2 linked regions of the Homo sapiens genome follow. The protein of the gene in region 1 binds, or shares a complex with, the protein of each later gene. Each region holds a gene or a part of one and is shown on either strand. Other genes may lie near its edges. The genes, in order: MCCC2 and MCCC1.

Region 1 (7,709 bases):
ATTTACCATAATTTGCTTATTCATTCATCTGTTAATGGACATTTGGGTTGTTTAGAGATTTTGTGTATTACAAATAAAGCTGTTATAAATATTTTTGTTCAAGTTTTTGTATGCACACGTAATTTTATTTACCTTGAGTAGATTCTTATAATAGTGAAAAGTAAAAAAGCCTTTATCACAGCTTGGAGTCTATTATCTTCTGTAGATGCAGGGCAGTTTGGCCGAGAATCAAGCCAGGATTTGACAAGAAGGGAGTTGAAGGGTCAATGAAAGGTACAGTATGATATAAGGACACTACACAGGAAGGAATGGAAAGCTGAGAAATAGGATGGACACATTTGGGCAGATGTGGTCAAGACCCAGACTCTCAAATGCCCAAATCCCCTTGAGCTTTTCTCAGAGTGGAGGCAACCTACCCTCATATCCACTCCCCATTCCTGACCAGCCTTTCCCTGTGTAAAAGGCACTTAGTCGCTTCATCTGGGGCAGTTGCCTTATGAGCTGATGCTAGTTCTTGTAAGGGACTGATCCTACCCTGCCTCCTTGCCTCTGGATCTTAACAGAAGTTAGTTATTCCAGTGCAAACCAAAAAGTACTGAACGTGGCCCAGAAAGAGATAGTTTCTTGCCAGTGTGTATTGGCAAGAGTTAGGGAATATGGAAATGGATTGTTACGCCAAGGAAAACAAATATAAGGTTGGATTGGGATAAATGTATAAACATGAGTGCATGTGCTGGCATGTCAGTCATGTTTTCCAAAGATAGTCACACAATGTCTCTCATCTTTTCTGCCAGTGGCCTTGACACTCCTTCCATTGAGTGGTGGGGTCTATGTCCCCTCCCCTTGAATCCAATAGAGTACAACCAAAGTAATACCATGTGATATCCCAGGTAAGGTCATTAAGTTTCTACAGAAGAGACTTGATAGCAAAGGAGAGCCTGCCAGGTCTAACTGCTCATCCTGACCTCCCAGCTTCTTGCCTGGCCTTTAAATAACCCTCCCTTAGGTGTCCTGGAATGTCTCCTTGCTCTGATTCCAGAGCAGTTATTTTTTATGTATTCATTCAACAAATTTAGCGTCTGTAATATGCCCAGCATAGGCCATAAATGATGACACTGACAAGACCCCAAGTTGGAGAAACTAAATGAGCCCTAACAACAAGTGCTGACCCGAGCCACAATAGAGGCCTGTTGAAGGGAGAAAGAGGTAATGAGGTGGGGTCAGGGAGGGCTTCTGGAGTAGGAGATTCCTGAGCCAAGTCCTAAAGGATGTGTATGGGCTCACCAGGTGGAGAAGATGGAACGGACAAGTCTGGTCGTGGAAAGATGCCCTGGGCAGAGGGAACGGTGCGGATAAAGGAAGGAGAGCAAGTGGAAGATGGCAGCCAATGGGAATGAGCAATGCATGGGAAGGAACTGAGGGTGAGATGAAAGGCAGCGCACCAGGCTGCAGAGATCAGCCCTGGCGGTTACATTTTTCAATTAATTCTCTTATTTTTATTATATAAAACATTATTTTGGCCAGGCGCGGTGGCTCACGCCTGTAATCCCAGCACTTTGGGAGGCCGAGGTGGGTGGATCACGAGGTCAGGAGATCGAGACCATCCTGGCTAACACGGTGAAACCCGGTTTCTACTAAAAATATGAAAAATTAGCCAGGTGTGGTGGCGGGCACCTGTAGTCCCAGCTACTCGGGAGGCTGAGGCAGGAGAATGGCATGAACCCGGGAGGCGGAGCTTGCAGTGAGCCGAGATCGTGCCACTGCACTCCAGCCTGGGCGACAGAGCGAGACTCCCTCTCAGAAAAATAAATAAATAAATAAATAAAATAAAAACATTATTTTACTTTATTTTTATTTTATTTTTATTGTTTTTTTTAGAGACAGGGTCTAGCTCTTGTCACTCAGGCTGAAGTGCTTGGCAAGATCATGGCCCACTGCAGCCTCAAACTCCTGGACTCAAGTGATTCTCTCACCTCACCCTCCAAGTAGCTAGGACTACAAGCACATGCCACTGTGCATGGCTATTTTTATTTTTCAGAGACATGGGCTCACTATGTTGCCTAGGCTAGTTTCAAGTTCCTGGCCTCAATAAAACATTATTTTAAAAAATCAGAGATGGCAAAGATTATGTTCCTTGTAATCTCAATAGTGGGGTAGAGAGACACTGGACACTAACAGATGCTAGGTGACTGCTTTTGGCCTTCTGTGCATTTGCACTTCACCTTTTGCATTTTTCTACTTAGCTGTTCTGGGAACATTATACATTTCCAAAGAGCTTCTTGTAACAAAAGTTACAAGAAATAAGAAACATGTATGACTTTTTTTTTTTTTTTTTTTGAGACAGAGTCTTGCTCTGTCACCCAGGCTGGAGTGCAGTGGTGCCATGTCGGCTCACTGCAGACTCTGCCTCTCGGGTTCCAGCGATTCTCCTGCCTCAGCCTCCCAGGTAGCTGGGATTACAGGCACGTGATACTATGCCTGGCTAATTTTTGTATTCTTAGTAGAGATGAGGTTCCACCATGTTGGCCAGGCTGCTCTCAAACTTCTGACCTCAGATAATCCACCTGCCTTGGCCTTCCAAAGTGCTAGGATGATAGGCATGAGCCACTGCACCCGGCCAAAACAGGTATGACTTTTAAAGAAAGCAAGGAATCATATCCTATTGTGTCTTTTCTGTCTTCGGGTGGTGATTTTAAGTACTTTGCATCATTGAAGAACTATTTAGAGAAAAATAAAGTGTGGCAATTAAAATATCAAACCCTCTCTTCTGATACCCTGATACATATGAAAAGTCAGTTTTTACTGGCCTTTTTTTCTGTTGACCATGGGAGGCAAGCACAGTGTAAATCATACCTTTGCAGTTTAGCTCATGCTCTCCTCCATTTGCACAAAGCCTGGCCATGTTCATTGCTCAGTCCACTCTCAACGCTTCTGCAAGGCTCAGCTGCAACCCTTTCCCAATTGCATTCTGTTCCTTTAATGTCTGTCCTACACAGTTCAGTAAGAAATCATGTGGCCATTTGTATTATTTTCTTATAAGTACCTTGAAGTCTGAACCTAAGTTTACCTCCAGGTGTAGACGCACCCTTTCTCTACCCCATCCTCCCCCTTTACTCTGCCCCACTAAGCAACCAATGGAGTAGAAGTAGTAAGTGCTCAATAAATATGTGAATGAAAAACCTTAAGTTCAAGGCATTTTGTATAGAATGTTTTAATTTTTATGGGTATATTTGGAGTCCTTTATTTAAGACCACAGTGCTGATGTCCACAATCTGTCACTACATAGTGCCTGGTGTGGTGGCTCATGTCTGTAATCCCAGCACTTTGGGAGGCTGTGGCGGGCAGATCGCTTGAGTCCAGGAGTTCAAGACCAGCATAGCCAACATGGTGAAACCCCTACAAAAATAAAAAATTAGCCGGGCTTGGTGGCACAAACCTGTAGTCTCAGCTACTGGAAAGGCTGAGGTGGGAGGTCAAGGATTCAGCGAGCTGTGATCGTGCCACTGCATTGCAGCCTGGGCGACAGAGTGAGGCCCTGTCTCAAAAAATGAAATAAAGTAAAAAATAAAAATAACTACATAGCGAAAATAATCAGAAGAATGTTTAAGGTCTCCAGTGAAAGGACAACAGGCTTGTTGTGCTGTTCGCAAGCACGTGTTAGATGCGATTCACTCATGTTGTTGGTGTGTCACTGGGGGTTGTGACTGCAAGTTGTCCAGGTTCTTGGCATTGTGAACAAAGAATTGGACAAAACGCCCAGCAAAGCAAAGAAAGAACAAGGCAACGAAAGAACGAAAGCAGGGATTTACCGAAAACGAAAGTGCACTCCACAATGTGGGAGCGGACCGAGCAGAGCTCAAGGGCCCGGATATAGAATCTTCTTGGGTCCAAATACCCACTAGAAGTTTCCTATTGGCCATTTTATGCTCACCTCAAACCCGATTGGTTGCAAGAAGCAAGCAGTCAGAGGCTAGGGTGAAATTACAAAGTTATACTTCTATGCAAACGAAGACTGGACCCCCAATCAGTCTGATTGGTTGTGGACAGCAACCATTCAGAGGCTGGAGTTAAGGTTCAAACTTGGCAAAGCAAGCCTCCACCAGCAGTAAGTCTGATTTGTCGGGGACAGCCAATTTCCTATCTGCCCTGCGGAAAAGGTGGGGGGGTTTGCAAAGGGAGTAGCCTTTGGTCCTTTTGTTACTTAGGCATGGAAAGTTAGGGTTTTCCTTTCAGTTTAGCTCTAGGAAGTCAGCGTGAGACAGCCTTAGGTTCCCTGCTTCCAGACTTATTCTCCTGCCTTAGGTACAGTCACTATCGTGATATTATCTATCGCTGTGTCAACACAACACCAATCCAAGCCCAACCGCAGCTCTCTCACTGCCGCACCGCTTCGTGAGGGTCGATCCGCCGGGGAGACCTGCTCTCCTGCGCTCGGGACTAGACGCGACCTCGCGGGGCTGAGGCTCTGTCCCTTATTGGCTGGGTCAGGGGGCGTGGCGCGGCTTGACCAATCGCGGGCGGCGCGCTTAGGCACGTGTGTGGACAGGCCTGAGAATCAGAGAAACCTTCTCTGGGGCTGCAAGGACCTGAGCTCAGCTTCCGCCCCAGCCAGGGAAGCGGCAGGGGAAAGCACCGGCTCCAGGCCAGCGTGGGCCGCTCTCTCGCTCGGTGCCCGCCGCCATGTGGGCCGTCCTGAGGTTAGCCCTGCGGCCGTGTGCCCGCGCCTCTCCCGCCGGGCCGCGCGCCTATCACGGGGACTCGGTGGCCTCGCTGGGCACCCAGCCGGACTTGGGCTCTGCCCTCTACCAGGTAGGCTGAGCGCCCCGGTGGCCTGGCCGCCGGTGCCAGGCTAGGAAGCAAGTGGAGGAGGGGCACGCTTCAACAACTGCTGCTCTCTTGTCCGGAGCCCCAGTTGATTCTGTGACGCACGTGAAGTTTGAAGAAGAAAAGCCTAACAGATACAAGAAAGTTTAGTTCACTTTTAGAGCTGGCACTGTACTTTGTGTCTTTGAAATCAGTGGTTCTTAAAGCCTGGTTTAGAATTGCCACCTGGGGAGCTAGCTGAATAGCTGCCTGAGCCCTACTCTGGACCTTGTGGGTCTCAGGTGGAGTCGCTGTGTTTATATTGTTAGTGAACTCATTAGGGGACTTTTGGCAGCCAGCTTTGGGAACCACTGGCCTAGAGCAGCCCAACGAGGGGCGCTGTGCTTAGGAAATTTGAGTTTAAAAGTTGATTATGATGGCCGAGCCCAGTGGCTCACGCCTGTAATCCCAGCGCTTTGGGAGGCCCTGGCGGGTGGATTACCTGAGATCAGGAGTTCGAGAACAGCCTGGCCAACGTGGTGAAACCCCATCTCTACTAAGAATACAAAAATTAGCCGGGCATGGTGGCGCGCGCCTGTAATCCCAGCTACCTGGGAGGCTGAGGCAGGGGAATCGCTTGAACTTGGGAGGCGGAGGTTGCAGTGAGCTGAGATCGTGCCATTGCACTCCAGCCTTGGCAACAAGAGCGAACTCTGTCTCAAAAAAAAAAAAAAAAAAAAGTTGGTTATGTTAATAGAAAATATCCCACAGTATCTTTGAGTGGCTTTTCTTGGAATTAGGAGGCATCATAAGGCCAAAAAACTCAAAACTTGCGAAATATCAGAGCTGGAAAATTTCACTGTGTTCCCACGATTTCTAAGCCTATACAGATAACATCTAAATAGTGCAAACAACACACAATTGTTTGTCAGTCCAGAATGTTTAATTCAGAATTATTAAGTGGTTATTGTGGTCTAGGCACTATTTTAGATATTTGGCATGGATGCGTAGGAATGGAACTAATAATTTTGTAGGGAAGATGGACAAGAAAGCAGGTAACTGTGGTACAGTGTAAGAAGGGTTGTCTAAAGCTTGAGAAGGTGGTTACAGAAAGCTACCGATAGGAAGTAATGGGTGAGATGAATCTTGGGTAAGAGCTGGCCAAGTTCAGGGTGCAGGATGGAAGGTAAGACTGTATAAACCAAGAGAGTTACAAGAACATAGGTACTGAGTTATGAAAGTGTATATCTGGTGTGAGGACTTGAATTCCATGTCTAGGACATGGAATTCATTGAATAGTGTCTGGTGATGGGATTGATTGATTATGGGGCCAGATAGAGGAGGATCTTCCATGCAAAAGCCACATTTAGATTCCATTTGGCAGGTTGTCCATTAAAATATTTAAGTAGATAAGTGGCATGATCCTATGGATATGGTAGAATCATCAGTGTGGTGGCAATGTGGAGGATGGATTGATATAGGGAAAAGACTAGACCTAGGTGACAGTGGAGAGTTGAGTCTTGAGATGAAGGAGTCAAAGTTAGAGTTGTATGTAGGAGGGGGGCATAAATACCTGAGGAGCAAAGATTATAGAGTTAATAACTGAGTGGAAGGGGAAAATGGATGACTTTGGAGTTTCCAACTGGGCAGAATATTTAGTTAGGTGGAACTGCCATTAATACAAAGAAGGCTTTGGTGATGGGTTTTGTATGAATCACCTTTTGCTAGGTTGCGCTTTGTGTAACAAATAATCAAAAAATCTCAGTAACTCACAACAGTAAATATTAGTCTCTCACTTGATTTTGTTTTGTTTCTTAATCTCTCACTCGTGTTGGTGGCCTTTGGTTAGCTGCTGCTGTGACTGTTCCACTGCAGGGTAGGTTCAGGTCTGCTCCATGTGTCTTCCCATTCCTGGACTGAGGCTGAAGAGCAGCCCTGAATTAAACATGCCCTTCTCATGGCCGAAGGCACAGGAGCAAGAGGCTGAACACAAATTGGATTTAAAATCCTTGCTGGCATGTGATGAAATTAATGTGTGCTCACATTAGACAAAGCAAGTCCATGAGGGTGGGGGAGAATGGGATGAATGATCCAGTTTAGCTGTGTTTCCTGATTACAAATAAAAGCAACTATAATAAGTAATAATAATGGCAGGAATTTTATAGTGTACCCACCATTTTTCTAAAGGCTTTATGTGGTTTTACTCATGTATTTATCATAATGATCCTGTGCAGTAGGTACAATTGTTATTTCTGTTTTATAGATGGGAAAACTGTGGTATATAGGGTCCAAGAAATTTGTCTGAGATAACACAGAGCCTGAATTTGAAGCCAGGTGGTCTGGCTCATAACTCTTGAGTCCAGGGTCTTAACTGTTGCTCTATAATGCTTCTCACTCACCCAGCTCTACCTAGGTGGGTTCTATGGTTGAAAAGATGGGGTGGGAAACTTGTCAGTGGCTCAGCTCCAATTCATTATGACTGTCAGGCACTAACCTCTGTGGTTGCTCAGCTTCACAAGAAAATTACTAGGTTGTAGAATGTTGTTTCGCAGGTGATTAAAACACACACACACACACACACAAACACAAACACCTGGCGTCCTGAGAGATCAAGATTTGCCAAATGCAGTATCAGTAAGTAGGGAAACTGAAAGTTGAACTTGGTTTTGCCACTAAACTACACTGCCTCTTGGTTAGTGAGTCTCATCCTAAGGAGGCTAGGTTGGTTGATAAAGGATTGCCTGGGAGGTGAACTGTAGCCAGTACTGGCTCTTCTGTGATTTAAGTCTGATGGGCTGAGCTTGGCACAGATGTTGCCCAGTCTGTAGAGGCAAATGTCAGCTTCAGTGGGTCAGTGCTTTTCTTCTTTGACCCACTGGTTGCTTAAAAGTACGTTGTTTAATTTC
Region 2 (7,271 bases), on another chromosome or scaffold:
GATGGCAGCATCTGAGTGTGCATTGTAGGGCAATGAGTGTATAGACGCATATAGATGTGTAGATGTCTACTGCATCTCCGCTCCAGTGAAATACTAGTCCTGCTCAACTACATAGTCATATACATAATATGTATATACTACTGCCTAGTTACATAGTTTCTAATGCACACGCTGTGCTTTTATCTTGTGCTTTGTGAATAATCTAAAATGGTTAGTTAGTCCTTTATAACCACATCTTCCAGGTATAGACAAAAAGATAGGTGGAATTGCTTCTGTAATTTGTTTGTTTCCCTGCATATGCTTTTTATTTATTTATTTATTTTTTTTTTTGAGATGGAGTCTCACTCTGTCACCCAGGCTGGAATGTAGTGGCACGATCTTGGCTCACTGCAACCTCCACCTCCCAAGTTCAAGTGATACTCCTGCCTCAGCCTCCCAAGTAGCTGAGATTACAGGTGCGCACCACCACACCTGGCTAATTTTTGTATTGTTAGTAGAGATGGGGTTTCACCATGTTGGCCAGGCTGGTCTCGAACTCCTGACCTCAGGTAATCCCCCCACCTCAGCCTCTCAAATTGCTAGGATTACAGGCGTGAGCCACTGCACCCAGCCCACTTATCCTCTTTAGCTGAAACTTAATAGACGTTATACTTTTTTGTTCCTAAAGTGAATCTGGCCTGTTTTCTGTCAGCTCTTGGTTACTTTATTTTATACACAGGTATCACGAAACTTAAAAATTGTTGAGACTTCTACCTCATTAAAATACCTCAAGTCATTTTGTCTCCCCATTTCTCCATTTTTTTAAATACAAGGACTTGGAATAGAATTGTATAGTACTTTTAAATCTGAGAGGTACCTTCAAGATCACCTCTTATAGTCTCATCTCGTGTGTGAGAACACTGAAGCCCAAGCTATTAAATCTTGCATCCTCAACTGGGATGATACCACCGCTAAAGGGTGGAAATTGATTCTTAGGAGAGCCAGGAAATCTTAGATTTTGTCATGGTTTACGGCTTTCCAAAGCTCAACCTTACCCCACCCTTCCTACAAGGAATAAAATCTTTTAAAAGTTTTCTCATTAGGAGAGTAATAATGAAAAAAAAGTTGGAGAAACACTGATGTAAAGTGACTCGACCCTGGGCAAGCTGGTCATTGGAGGGACTCGGATGAGAATGCAGCTTTTCTGGTCCCACAGCCAACATTCTTTCTGTTGCCCCTGTTTAACTTCCGTTTATTTCTCTGGTCTTACTTTTTAAACATGTCTCATGTTTAAACTTGATTGGTATTTTTCAAACTGTAGATTGACCAGCATATTTTAATAAAATAGGATACAACTGAAAGAACCAAAAGAGTTTTGTTCTTTTTGTTTTTGTTTTTTTTTTTGAGACGGAGTCTCGCTCTGTCACCCAGGCTGGAGTGCAGTGGCCCAGTCTCGGCTCACTGCAAGCTCTGCCTCCTGGGTTCACGCCATTCTCCTGCCTCAGCCTCCCGAGTAGCTGGGACTACAGGTGCCCGCCATGACGCCCGGCTAATTTTTTGTGTTTTCAGTAGAGACAGGGTTTCACCGTGTTAGCCAGGATGGCCTCAATCTCCTGACCTCATGATCTGCTTGCCTCGGCTTCCCAAAGTGCTGGGATTACAGGTGTGAGCCACCGTGCCTGGCCAGGGCAGAATGAGTCATTTTTAACAAAACATCTGTTTTCATTAAGTGTGTGTCCTGGGTAGTTTGTATTGTGAGTTGTAGCCAAAAAGGTTTCAAAAAAGCTAAACTAGATGATGTTGGTATACCTTGGTTGTTTAATCATCTCTGACTGTGGTCTTATGCCAGCCTCAGGAACAAGCAGGCTAGGTGACTCATTCAAGGACAGGTAGTACGAGGGAAAACAGCCAGAACTCTAACTCTTGAGTTCTAGATTAGTTTTCTACCCACTAAGAAAGTCTTACTAAAGCACTGTTAGTTGGCTTAAGGTTTCATGTTTTAAGAAACTGAAATTCTTTTGAAAGAACAATTGTGTTGCCTATTCTGTTTAATTGTAATTCCTTTTGGATTTATGTTATAGGACATGGGTGTGGAGGCAAAGAACCATGAAGTACACAACAGCCACAGGTACTGACAGACTTTGTTGTTCTATTTGATTTTGCTTCAGACTGGAAGTGTTTAAGAAAGGGAAATGTTTAATCCCTTAATATATGCATAATAGAATTAGTTATCATAAATTTTGGATTTTCACGATAATTTTCTAGGAAGTGTTAAGTCATGGTTTTCACCTCTTTTGTATCAAATCTCTCTTGCTGTTAAGTCTAAAATACAGAGGGCAGCCGGGCGCAGTGGCTCATGCCTGTATCCCAGCACTTTGGGAGGCTGAGGTGGGTGGATCACCTGAGGTCAGGAGTTCGAGACCAGCCTGGACAACATGGCAAAACCCTGTGTCTACTAAAAAATACAAAAATTAGCTGGGCGTGGTGGCGGGTGCCTGTAATCCCAGATGCTTGGGAGGCTGAGGCAGGAGAATTGCTTGAACCCAGGAGGCGCAGGTTGCAATGAGCCAAGATCTCGCCACTGCACTCCAGCCTGGGCGACAGAGCAAGACTTCGTCTCAAAAAAAAAAAAAAAAAAGTAAAAATAAATAAATAAAATACAGAGGGCAATAATGGAGAACATTTTATATTCGTTTGTTCTTTCTGTCCATTTGACCCTCTTAGTGTATTGGATTGGAAAATCATAACTACGATGGTCTAAAGCAGTTCTTTGAAAAAGCTATTTTAAGTAGCAAAACCTTTTTTTCCAAATAAAATTTAACATGGAATTCCCAACTATGAAACATATAAAAGTGTAATAAAGTATAACTTCTAGCTGATTGGATATAGCCCTCTACCTACTGTGCTCTCCTTCCCCTGCCCACACTCATACATATGTCATCCATCAGCCCCTGTGACAACTCTTGGGCTCCATAGAGCCCCATCGAAAAACACTTTTAAATTAGGTGCAACCTTTTTTTTTTTAAAAGGAGAAATAACTTTATTATGTTGAGCCTATGGATTCTATTGAAGAAATAACTTTATTATGAACTGTCAAAGAACATTTATTTCACGTGTGATATTAGAAGTACATTTTATATATGCAGTAGCTTGTCATTATGGTGCCATGCCAGTAGACTGGTACAAGAGTCACTTGTGTTGCAAGAGAACCACACACACCTATGTACATAGGGATAGAGGCAGAGGAGCAGAGTGACTGAAAGCTTAAATTCTGGAGTGACGCAGATCTAGGTTGAAGTCCCAGATTGTTTCTTTAGCTGTGTAATTTTGGGAAAATAATAGCTCTTTCAGCATTAGTTTCTTCATCTTTAAAATTGAGATAACAATGATAGTATCTATTTCATTAGGATTATTGTGAAAATTTAAGTCGATGTTGAGTCTTTAGCACAGGACCTGAGGCACAGAAAGTGCTTATTAAAGATTAGTTAGTATTGGCCGGGTGTGGTGGCTCACACCTGTAATCCCAGCACTTCGGGAGGCCAAGGCAGGTGGATCACCTGAGGTCAGGAGTTCGAGACCAGCCTGGCCAATGTGGTGAAACCCCGTCTCTACTAAAAATACAAAAATTAGCCAGGCGTGGTGGCAGGCACCTGTAATTTCAGCTACTCAGGAGGCTGAAGCAGTAGAATTGCTTGACCCTGGGAGGTAGAGGTTGTAGTGAGCCGAGATCACACCATTGCACTCCAACCTGGGGGACGAGAGCAAAACACTGTCTCAAAAATAAATAAATAAGTAAATAAATAAATACATAAAAGAGTAGTTATTAATGATGATAATTTAACACTATTATAATTTGATCCTTGGCATAACAAAGCATCTTTTAATTTTATTTTATGTTGCTTTGTATTTTAAGTTTAAAAAGCTGAGTAATTTATGTTAATGAGTACCTTGAATTTAAGAGAAAAGAAGTGCACTGTCTAATATTAGTTAAAGTGGTCATTTTGGGCTCAGTTATGCTAGTTTTACCAAAAACCTTGAACTTATCAGTCGAGTCCTTATCAGCCAGTTAAGATCGTATTCTCATTCTCATTCTTTGCTCTCCAGTAACATTTCTGTGTGATTTTCATGGTGTTTTAAACAGGAAGAAACATTACCAAGGTCCTCATTGCAAACAGAGGAGAAATTGCCTGCAGGGTGATGCGCACAGCCAAAAAACTGGGTGTACAGACTGTGGCGGTTTATAGTGAGGCTGACAGAAATTCCATGCATGTAGATATGGTATGTGTTAAAAATTGGAAGCCACGTCTTACGTTTATTCGTTTACTGTGTCAGTATTTTCGTTCTTTATGATGACAGTTGATATTTGCTAGTGTTATCAGGGTTGAAGTAGGTAAGTTCAAACTGCTCACTGCTAATTCTTGGGAACATTTTTCAGATATAACATCAGTTGAACTAAGCGGTGTGCTTAGTAGAACAGTTGATTTACAGGCAAGGTCTTTATCTCCTTGAGGATTGGTTAAAACGGTTCACAGAATGTTGCGGATCCACTGACTACACTTTGAGTAGCTCATGTCCAGATTCCGTATATACAAGGAGAAAGATCCAGGCTCTATTCTTTTTTTTTCTTTTTTTTTTGAGATTGAGTCTCGCTCTGTTGCCCAGGCTGGAGAGCAGTGGCACAATCCCGACTCACTGCAAGCTCCGCCTCTCAGGTTCAAGCGATTCTCCTGCCTCGATTCTCCTGCCTCGACGTCTAGAGTAGCTGGAACTATAGGTGCCCTCCACCACGACCGGCTAATTTTTTGTATTTTTAGTAGAGACAGGTTTTCACCGTGTTAGCCAGGATGGTCTCAATCTGCTGACCTCGTGATCCGCCCACCTTGGCCTCCCAAAGTGCCAAACAGGCGTGAGCCACCGTGCCTAGCCAATCCAGGCTCTATTCTTAGCACCTGCTACTTACTGGCTGAGTGATCTTAGCCAAGTCACTTCATGTTTCTGAGCCTTGCTTCATCTGTAAAATTATAACTAATAAGACCCAACTCCCTGAAGTTTGTGAATGTTACGGGTGAGTTATTACTAGTTTTTTTTGTTTTGTTTTGTTTTGTTTTGTTTTTGTTTTTGACAAGAGTCTCACTCTGTTGCCCAGGCTGGAGTGTAGTGGCGTGTTCTTGGCTCACTGCAACCTCCACCTTCCAGGTTCAAGTGATTCTCATGCCTCAGCCTCCTGAGTAGCTGGATTACAGACACACACCACCACGCCTGGCTACTTTTTTGTATTTTTAGTAGAGACAGGATTTCACCATGTTGGCCAAAATGGTCTCGAACTCCTGGCCTCAAGTGATCCACCCACCTTGGCCTCCCAAAGTGCTGGGATTACAGGCGTGAGCCACTGCGCCCAGCCTATCACTAGCTTTTATCCACCAGAAATAACTCCAAGCATAGGTGACTCCCACTGTTGGACTTCATTATGCCTGCAGTAAGACTCCAAGCACTAGCATCAATTCATGATGAGCAGCCTCACCTGGGCTTTTATCACTGTACAGCAGGCCCTTGTGGCTCTCTAGCCACTGTTTTTCTCACTCTGTGCAATGAGTATTTCAAACTTGTTTCGCTTCATTCCAACCTCCAATTCTCCCTCTACCCACCTTTTTGCAGCAGGATGATCTTGATTTCACAGAGAAAATAAAATTGAGGTTCCTGCCACAGAATCTGCTGACTTAGTTATGTCTGCATCCATCTTTCCCATCGAAGGTCAGTGCTCTGGATCCCTTCTCTTCTTGTCTTTTTAAGAATTTTCCCGGCTGGGCGCAGTGGCTCACACCTGTAATTCCAGCACTTTGGGAAGCCGAGGCAGATGAATCACCTGAGGTCAGGGTTCGAGACCAGCCTGACCAACATGGAGAAATCCCGTCTCTATTAAAAATACAAAATTAGCTGGGCGTGGTGTCACATGCCTGTAATCCCAGCTACTCGGGAGGCTGAGGCAGGAGAATCGCTTGAACCCGGGAGGCGGAGGTTGCAGTGAGCTGAGATCGTGCCATTGCACTCCAGCCTGGGCAACAAGAGCGAAACTCTGTCTCAAAGAAAAAAAAAAAAAGAATTTTCCCAAAATAAGAGAGTAAATTTTAAATGTCTTACCATGAAAAAATATTAGGTAAGTGAGATGATGCCTAGGTTAATTGGCTTGATTCAATCATTCCACATTGTGTGCATGTGGCAAAACATCACATTGTACCCCATAAATGCATACAATTATGATTTGTCAGTTAACAGTATTAATAAAACATAAAGCAAAATGAGACATTCCTGTGTCAAAAAGAAAAGGATCTTCTATTTTTCAATGATGGGTCTTCAACCACTCTCTACTAGACTGATACTATCCATGTCCCTAAATCCAGTGGAGTCTCCAGGGCTGAGCTGACTTGACCCCTCAGCAGCATTTAGCATCCTAGTACACTGCTCCCTTCTTTTAGAAATAAATTCTTCTCATGGCATTCTCAGCCTCTTGCCTTCTTGTCTTCTCTCAGTGTCCTTTATCTGGACCCTACCCATCTACCAGACCCTACCCATCTACCAGACCCTTATGTTGAAGTTTCTTGGGACTTGGTCCTTGGCCCTCTTTTCTCAGTGTGCACTCTCATTCTGGATCATTTTATATACTCCTATAGCTTTGAGAAAAACTCCCAAATTTCTATTTTTAGTCCAGACTTTCTTTTGAGCATGATACATATATATCCAACTGCCCATTCAACATCTCCACTTCAATATTGTCACAGGTACCAAACTAGTGTGACTGAAATTGAACTCATGACCTTTCACCTATACTGAACCTGCATTTCTTACAGAATTCCCTAACCCCGTAGAGTACAACACCATTGCTAATAAAAACAATAATGTCAGAGATCTAGAAGTCTTTGAGCATTTTTCTCTCTTCTTTCCTACTCTAGATCCTTCCCCCCTCATCTAGTAAATGACCAAGTACTGTTAATTGTATTTCCCAAACATTTCTTTCCACTTCTTTCCACCCCCTCCCACCTATAACTTAACTCAAAGCCACAGTCACCTTTTTTTTTGAGCCAGGGTCTCACTCTGTCAGCTAGGCTGGAGTGCAGTGGCACAGTCACAGCTCACTGCAGCCTCAACCCCCCAGGCTCAAGCAATCCTCCTACCTCAGCCTCCTGAGTAGCTGGGACTACAGGCACTTGCTACCATAGCCGGCTAATTTTTAAAATTTTTTGTAGAGATGATGTCTCACTATGTTGTCCCAAAGCGCTGGGATTATAGGGATTATA

What was found.
Region 2: the proteins of MCCC2 (region 1) and MCCC1 are in contact, whole or in part, in a cryo-EM structure (PDB 8JXM), measured with the Homo sapiens proteins. Residues at the interface, in NP_071415.1 of Homo sapiens: Leu56, His57, Val60, Glu61, Lys64, Asp88, Ile91, Pro93, Gly94, Ser95, Pro96, Phe97, Leu98, Glu99, Gln102, Ile123, Gly124, Arg125, Gly128, Glu130, Arg234, Trp276, Leu278, His281, His282, His285, Lys298, Lys299, Leu300, Ile304; in NP_064551.3 of Homo sapiens: Glu519, Phe526, His531, Asp532, Phe534, Ser535, Pro536, Phe537, Ser538, Ser539, Ser540, Ser541, Gly542, Arg543, Arg544, Leu545, Asn546, Ile547, Tyr549, Thr550, Arg551, Tyr568, Tyr636, Leu637, Ser641, Glu644.

What each region holds. Positions count from the first base shown.
Region 1 is NC_000005.10:71,582,746-71,590,454, forward strand, and holds the start of MCCC2 (methylcrotonoyl-CoA carboxylase beta chain, mitochondrial isoform 1 precursor), read left to right. Parts: upstream 1-4,594; 5' UTR 4,595-4,680; coding exon 4,681-4,809; intron 4,810-7,709. UniProt on the Homo sapiens protein: Carboxyltransferase subunit of the 3-methylcrotonyl-CoA carboxylase, an enzyme that catalyzes the conversion of 3-methylcrotonyl-CoA to 3-methylglutaconyl-CoA, a critical step for leucine and isovaleric acid catabolism.
Region 2 is NC_000003.12:183,089,395-183,096,665, reverse strand, and holds part of MCCC1 (methylcrotonoyl-CoA carboxylase subunit alpha, mitochondrial isoform 1 precursor), read left to right. Parts: intron 1-2,057; exon of another isoform or gene 2,058-2,060; coding exon 2,061-2,107; intron 2,108-4,120; coding exon 4,121-4,257; intron 4,258-5,708; exon of another isoform or gene 5,709-5,730; intron 5,731-7,271.